Homo sapiens: one gene and its partner. The protein of the gene in region 2 purifies or fractionates together with the protein of the main gene of each other region. This does not show direct contact. Each region holds a gene or a part of one and is shown on either strand. Other genes may lie near its edges.

Region 1 (3,824 bases), on a different chromosome or scaffold from region 2:
TGCAGTGGCTCATGCCTGTAATCTCAAGCTCTTTGGGAGACTGAAGCAGAAAGGTTGCTTGGGCCTAGAAGTTTGAGACCAGTCTGGGCAACACAGTGAGACCTCGTGTCTACAAAAAATTGAAAATTAGCTGGGCGTGGTGGCACACGTGCCTGTGGTCTCAGCTACTCAAGTGGCTGATGTAGAAGGACCACTTGCGCCTGGGAGGTCAAGTCCACAGTGAGCTGTAACTGCACCACTGCACTCTAGCCTGGGCAACAGAGTGAGAGTCTGTCTCAAAAAAAAAAGTAGATTTCAAAATCAAACATCTTTTTTTATCAGAATGTATAAATGGGCATCTTTCTAATAAAAGGATATTAATAATGTGCATATATTAGTAAAAAATTAATGATAAACAGTTCTGTCTGAGACTAAATAACTGGCAAAAGTAAGATGCAGATAATAGCCTAATGGCAGGGGAGTGGGATTAAGAGGTGGTGGATCAGAATGAATTATTTAAGAACAAGAAAGTGAGAAAAAAGCCAGGCATGGTGGCTCATGCCTGTAATTCCAGCACTTTGGGAGGCCAAAGTGGGTGAATCACTTGAGGTCAGGAGTTCGAGACCAGCCTGGCCAACATGGTGAAACCCTGTCTCTACCTAAAACTACAAAAACTAGCCAGGTGTGGTGGTGGGCGCCTGTAGTCCCAGCTACTTGGAGGCTGAGGCACGAGAATCGCTTCAACCCAGGAAGTGGAGGTTGCAGTAGAGCCGAGACTGTGCCACTGCCCTCCAGCCTGGGTGACAGAGTGAGACCCTGTCTCCAAACAAAAAAGAGAGAAAAGAGGATAAATCAAAAGAATTATTTACCTTCCATAAGCAGAGACTTTAATGAGTAAAGAAATAAGTAATTTGTTTAAATCTAAACACTTTCCAAGCTGAATTTAACAGATATATTCAAGCACAGTCAATATAAAATAAAGATATATGAGAAAGGAAATAAAAGGTTTAATAGCAGAATGGAAAAACTGACCAACAACAAACAGACCAAATGTTAACAACTTGGAAAAAAACTGTTGTCCTGAAAAGCCTCTATAAGACTGCAAAAAGGAATTCAAAAATATGTTGCTCATAAAATACTCTTAAGTTGAAAATGACAAGGAGTGATTTCATCCATGAATACTGATGCCAAACTCTTAATCAAAATATTAACAAATACTCTTCCAGCAGAATATTTTTATTAAAAAATGGAGAAAACCTTATGGTCATAGGCAACAGATACTGGAAAAGCATCTGATAAACTCTATAGCCATTCCTCGTTAAGAACAATTTTTGTAATATAAATGGTGGATATTTTTCATTAATATAATTTTTTAAAAATCCATACACCTCTAACCAAAAGCCAAGATTTCGGCTTACTGCAGAAATACTAGAAGTACTTGCATAATAGTAAGAAGGCAAGAAACGGATGTCTGCCATCATCACCATTACTCGGCATTGCGCTTGAAATACCACTCAGTGCAATCAGATAAGCAAGCGTAAAAACAAGAATACATTATCAGAAAGGAAGAGACAAAATGAACACTATCTTAATATGACACAGTTGTATACTTTAAAAATTCAAGAGAACCAACCAAAAACTAACAGAAAAAGAGTCTGATGGTTAATTATAAAATTTAAATAAAAATCAACAGCTGGCCAGTCCTGGTGGCTGACACCTGTAATTCCAACACTTTTGGAAGGCCAAGGAAGGAGGGATGCTTGAGCCCTGGAGTTCGAGACCAGCCTGGGCAACATAATGAGACCTCATCTCTACAAAAAATAAACAAAATTAGCCAGGTGTAGTGGTGCGTGCCTACAGTCCCAGTTACTTGGGAAGCTAAGGTGGGAGGATCACTGGAGCCCAGGAGATCAAGGCTGCAGAGAGCTGTGATCACACCCCTGCACTCCAGGCTGGGGAACAGAGTGAGACCCTGTCTCAAAAAAAATTAAAAATAAATTACAATAAAAACCAACAGCTTTCCTATATACTAAATAACCAGCTGGAAACCAGATTATCAATAAAAGACATAAAATCCCTAGAATAAAATTAAGAAACTTGAACAACTGACATAAACTACAGAATTTTACAAGAGAAAATAAAGCTAAAGACATGAATAAATGAACAATATCTTGTTCTTGGCTAGGAAGATTCAGTAAAAAGAATCCCTATCTATAAAAATTAAATATAGTCATAATTAAAATCTAATTTTTTTTTCACCTTGACAAAATGTTTCTAAGTTCTTTGGAAAAACAAATATCCCAGAATAGCTGTGAATATTCTGAAAAAGAAGAGCGAGGAAGGGAGACCAGCCTTACAAGATGCTAACAGATGCAGAGCCACAGTCACCAACGTGTGGAATTTCTATAGGAACAGATAAAGAGACTAAAACATGCAAAAATATATGGCAATTTGTTGTGCACATAAGATAATCAGGGGAGAAAAGGCAAATGTGTTTAATAAATGGTAATGGGACAAACTGACTAGTATTTCCATTTGGAAAAAAATTAATGTAGCATTCAGGGAAAAAAAACTTCCCAGCCAGGCGTGGTGGCTCATGCCTGTAATCCCAACACTTTGGGATGCCAAGGCAGGTAGATCACTTGAGGTCAGGCGTTCAAGACCAGCCTGGCCAACATGGTGAAACCCCATCTCTACTAAAAATACAAAAATTAGCTGGGCATGGTGGCATGTGCCTGTAGTCCCAGCTACCCAGGGACTGAGGCATGAGAACTGCTTGAACCTGGGAGGTGGAGATTGCAGTGAGCCAAGATTGTGCCGCTGCACTCCAGCCTGGGCAACAGAGTGAGACTCTGTCTCAAAAAATAAAAAAATAAAAAAAGAAAACATGAATAAATATTTTTATAATCTTGAAGCAGGGAAAAGCTTTCTAATTGTTATATTAAAATCAAGTCATAAAAGATATAATAGGACAAAATAGTAAGGTTGTGTACAGCAAAAATACTCCATGAACAAAATGAGACAAAAGGTAACCCGGGGAAAAAGATATACAACACATACGACAAAGCGCTAATATCCTTTACACAGAAATAGATGAAAGATATAAACAGAAAACACACAATGATCAATAAAACAAACAAAAAGGCTAAAATGCTCAATCTCATCAACATTTTTTAAATGCATATTAAAACAGAAATTTAACCAAATTAGAAAATATTAAAAAATGAGTAATAACCAGTGTTGGTGAAGAAACACTGGCAAACACAAACAGGGCTGGGGGGAGTACATGTTGGTACAAACTTTTTGGAGGAGAATTTGGCAGTCTCTACAAGTATAACAATGTTAAAAAGAGCAGATTTATCATTCAAAAAGAGAAACAGGCTGGATACGGTGGCTCAAACCTGTAATCCCAGCACTGTGGGAGGCCAAGGCAGGAGGATCACTTGAGGCCAGGAGTTTGAGACCAACCTGGACAACACAGCAAACCCCCCCAACTCTATTTATATTAATAAAATAAAATTTTAAAAAAAGAAAGAATACTTCGACAATGTTAACTCACCAATCTTAGAAGGAAAAAGAGTTTCATCATCAAGCTGATCTTGAACCCAAGTCATCAAATAGTCAATGTATTTTGGTGCAGAACATTTGATTGGCTTTTTAATATTAGTACCATCTGCCCAGTGATATTCATATCTGAAGAGAAAAATGTTTTACTGATAAATTTTTCAAAAATATTAACAAATGTGCAAGTTGTGATTAAAACAGGTTCATTCACATTTTGTCAATAGAAGTTACATCTAACTTTAATAAATCACCTTAAGTTCTACTGAAGATTACTGTGAGTT
Region 2 (3,824 bases):
TTATTTTCCATTATAACTGGCCCTCAAAATTTAAATATGAAATTAAACATTAAACATTAAATTCAAACCAATTCAAGCAATACAGAATTGAATGCGAAAATCAAGAGTCTGCTTCGGAAGTATAAGCAAGTAGAGAGAGTGCTGCTTGCTAATGAACTACAAATTTTTTAATGTCAGAATAAGGAAAACTGTGATTCAGATGACTTTGAAGAGCATCTGACAATTCCAGGTGAAGAAAAGGTAAACACTGAAAAAAAAAAAAAAAAGGACTAAATTCCTAAAAGAGATCAAATAATGACCACAGCAAGAATCTTAAAAAGGGAGAATGTTACTTCAAAAGGTCGTGATTAAATCCAGATTAACAAAGATCTGCTCCAGGTGTACTGTCTCTAATAAAGTTTCCTCCCAAAATAAAAACAAGGGAGAAATAGTGTATTTTAACTCTGACTGAAACCAGAAATCATAGTTTCATCCCAATGGAAAATAGTATTTTTCAATCATATATGAAAAGAAGTCTTTAAAAGAAGAGTGAAGAAGCTATAGATACACCAACAAAAGGAGTGGGTATGAAAAAGACAACTTTAAAAAGTTAAATGGTTGCAAACACTTTAGCTGTCACCGGAATTATGTTTACCTCCGCCGTTTGTTACTACCAAACTGCCGCGGTTCTCTTGGTACTGGCTTTCTCTTCGTAGTCTTTGTTCTTTAGTAATCTCTGCTACTCGAAGAGGCAGATCTGAAAATTCATCTGTAGGCTTAAAAAAGAAGCAGAAACATTAAAAACAATCATTTTAGAGCCTGGCAGATCATGCCTGTAATCCATGCGCTTTGGGAGACCAAAGCAGGAGGATCACTTGAGGCCAGGAGTAAATTAGCTAGATGTGCTCACACATGCCTGTAATCCTAATACTTGGGATGTTGAGGCGAGACGATCGCTTCAGCCCAGGAGTTCGAGGCTGCAATGAGACAGGATTCCACCACTGCACTCCAGCCTGTGCGACAAAGCGAGATCCTATTTCAAAAAAATAAAAATCTGGTCTGGAGTGGTGGCTGATGCCTATAATCCCAACACTTTGGGAGACCAAGATGGGAATGACAAGCCCAGGAGTTTGAGACTAGCCTGGGCAATATAGGGAGAGCATGTCTCTAAAAAAAAATTTTTTTTAATTAGCCAGGCATGGTGGCATAAGCCTGTAGTCCCAGCTACTCAGGAGGTTTAGGTGGGAGGACTGCTTGAGCCATGGTCGTGCCACTGCACTCCAGCCTGGGTGAAAGAGCAAGACTCTGTCTCAAAAAATATAAAAGATTCATGACTCCATAAATTATATATATATAGATTTAAAATATCTACATATATATCTGTATTGATACAGCCACATTTATGAACCCACCCACCAAGACATACAAACACAAGTAATTCCAAATTTCAAATGGGATGTGGTCTAAAATTAATTTGGTTTCAATTCACAGTAAAACAATGTTATAAATAGTAGGTTATCAGTCTTGCTAACAAAAGTTTACTTAATAACTTAATGCATAGCTAAAATATTACACATTAGTAATTTTTATTTATTTTTTTACTTTTTTTCTTCTGTAGACCTCTGTGGACACAGTAATTTTTAAGAGCAGAAAACATAATATCAATAATTTAAAAACGAGAAAAACGACAGAATTAGCCAGGAAGTTATTCCTCTTGAGCACATGAATACTCTTTACTAAGGTCCTTGTCTCTACCCATCAGCCGAAAGTCCTACTTGTTTTCTCACCATCTAGCACCTCTGCTCGAGATTACCCCCCACCTCAGATTGTAGGCTTCAGTTTCAACTGGCTCAGCTCCTGTTTGCCTTTCTATGATATGAAACTATTTCCATGAGGCAATGAGGAAACAGGCGGAAATCCACGTGACAGAAAGCCGGTAAGGACGCAGAATGCCAATTCTGCTGGAGAGGGTGGGAATCTTGCCTCCACCTTGACTTTTCTGTATTTTATGTAGTGAGAAACTGAATCCAGTTAAGACGCTTTTCATTTTCATCATTCTGTTTTCTCTTAATCAGGTGTTATAACACACGGAACATAAAAAACACTTACTTCATTCCCTGACCATCTCTTATCACCACTGTCCACACTATTGAAGCCTGAATCAAGGGCTCCATAAGGGCGACTTGAGTACAGTTCTTCATGGCTGCCGAAAAGAGACTCTGTTACTGCAAAGTTTGTTATTTTAACAATTAAAATTTGAAATTAAACAGATCAATTTTCTAAAAAACAAGAAATGTGGCAGTCACTTAACTATTAGAACTAAATGGGCTTTAATTTTTTAATATGAAAAATTCCAAATAGAAACAAAGCAAACAGAATAGCATGAGACCTCATGTACTCATTATTATCCAGCTTCAAAACAATCACACCTCTGCAATTCTTGTTCGTCCAATGAGGCGAGTTTACTAGGACTGTGCTTTTAAGCAAAATTTGAGAGGTTCAAGAGAAGGCCTGAGAGGTTCTCTTTTGAGTAAAGTCCATAAACATTACTTCACTTTGACTGAAACATCTATCCTGCTTGTTTAAAGGCCTAAGAATTTAATTCTTGCTACTTAAGACTGCTCCATACTCAGGAGGCTGAGGTGGGAGGAATGCTTGAGCTCAGGAGTTTGAGACCAGGCTGGGCAACATAGTAAGACCTTGTTTCAAAAAAAAGAGATTGTTCCAGATGGTTGGGACTGCCAAGCAGATGACCTTATAAGTCACAGGCTGTGTAGCTGAGGGACTCATAGATTAAAAGATCCTGAAGTGATGTTAATGGTCAACAAATCCAACTCTTGACTCCTTGTAGAAAAAATGAAACTCAAAAAGTAGGAATGACTTGCCTTCGGCTAGTTACCTCAGCAGCAGAGCTAAAGTTAGCGTTCAAGTCACTCAGACCAGTAGTTTTCAACTGGAGGGCCCCAAGGTGACATTTGGAGACTTTGCGAGGGTACTACTGGCATCTATCTAATGGGCAGACACCAAGGATGCTGGTAAATGTCTTACAATGTACAGGACAGCCCATCACAACAAAGAATTATCTGATCTAAAATGTCAACAGTGCCAAGGTTGAGAAACCCTTAGAACTAGACTTTGCCAGATCTAGGTAATCAACTTTACAATACAAGCATTCTGAGAATAACAGTGTTAAAACAGGTTATTTCCCTTTAGTCAAACATTCAGGCAAATTTAAGTATCCATTTTATTTGATTCTCTGTACAAAAAATATGATAGATAAAGGGACAGAATATACTTACCAGGAGCCAAAACCCAACGGTCTCCTATCATAATCCGGCAGATCTGGAGCAATCTTACAAGCTTGTATGTTCAGGTATTTAAATATGTGGACTTTGCCTTTTATACATATCTAAATAAAGTCACACAGATGTAGCCAAATTATTACTCATCTGAAGTATGCTCCTTTTTATCATATCAACATTTTATGTAACATACATTGGGAAAGGGAGGCATTTCTATCAAGTACATACAGTAATATTTAAAAACTAATAAATTATATTATTTGGTTAAGTGTTATTTTAGGTGTTTAACTGGTAAATATGTTTTCATTTTCTAGTCACTAATACATTTCAGTAATATATAAATAAATAACTTTTGATTATACTGTTCAAATACCAAGTAAACTTATCACACTGACTAGTTTGCATAGTCAGAGATTTAAAGCATTTCTCCTCATTAGATTACATGAAGCAACTTTTACTTTTAGGAATCCAACAATCATATACAACTATGTTTTTGATTCTGCTTTGAGAGAGAAGAGCAGGAAATCATGAAACATTACATAT

What was found.
Region 1: the proteins of LRCH3 (region 2) and MOB1A purify together in Homo sapiens (co-immunoprecipitation; one large-scale study listed by IntAct). This does not show direct contact.

The regions. Positions count from the first base shown.
Region 1 is NC_000002.12:74,161,680-74,165,503, forward strand, and holds part of MOB1A (MOB kinase activator 1A), read right to left. Parts: intron 3,673-3,824; coding exon 3,539-3,672; intron 1-3,538. UniProt on the Homo sapiens protein: Activator of LATS1/2 in the Hippo signaling pathway which plays a pivotal role in organ size control and tumor suppression by restricting proliferation and promoting apoptosis.
Region 2 is NC_000003.12:197,829,128-197,832,951, reverse strand, and holds part of LRCH3 (DISP complex protein LRCH3), read right to left. Parts: intron 3,389-3,824; coding exon 3,279-3,388; intron 2,188-3,278; exon of another isoform or gene 2,183-2,187; coding exon 2,089-2,182; exon of another isoform or gene 2,055-2,088; intron 1,916-2,054; exon of another isoform or gene 1,729-1,915; intron 1,678-1,728; exon of another isoform or gene 1,598-1,677; intron 756-1,597; coding exon 635-755; intron 1-634. UniProt on the Homo sapiens protein: As part of the DISP complex, may regulate the association of septins with actin and thereby regulate the actin cytoskeleton.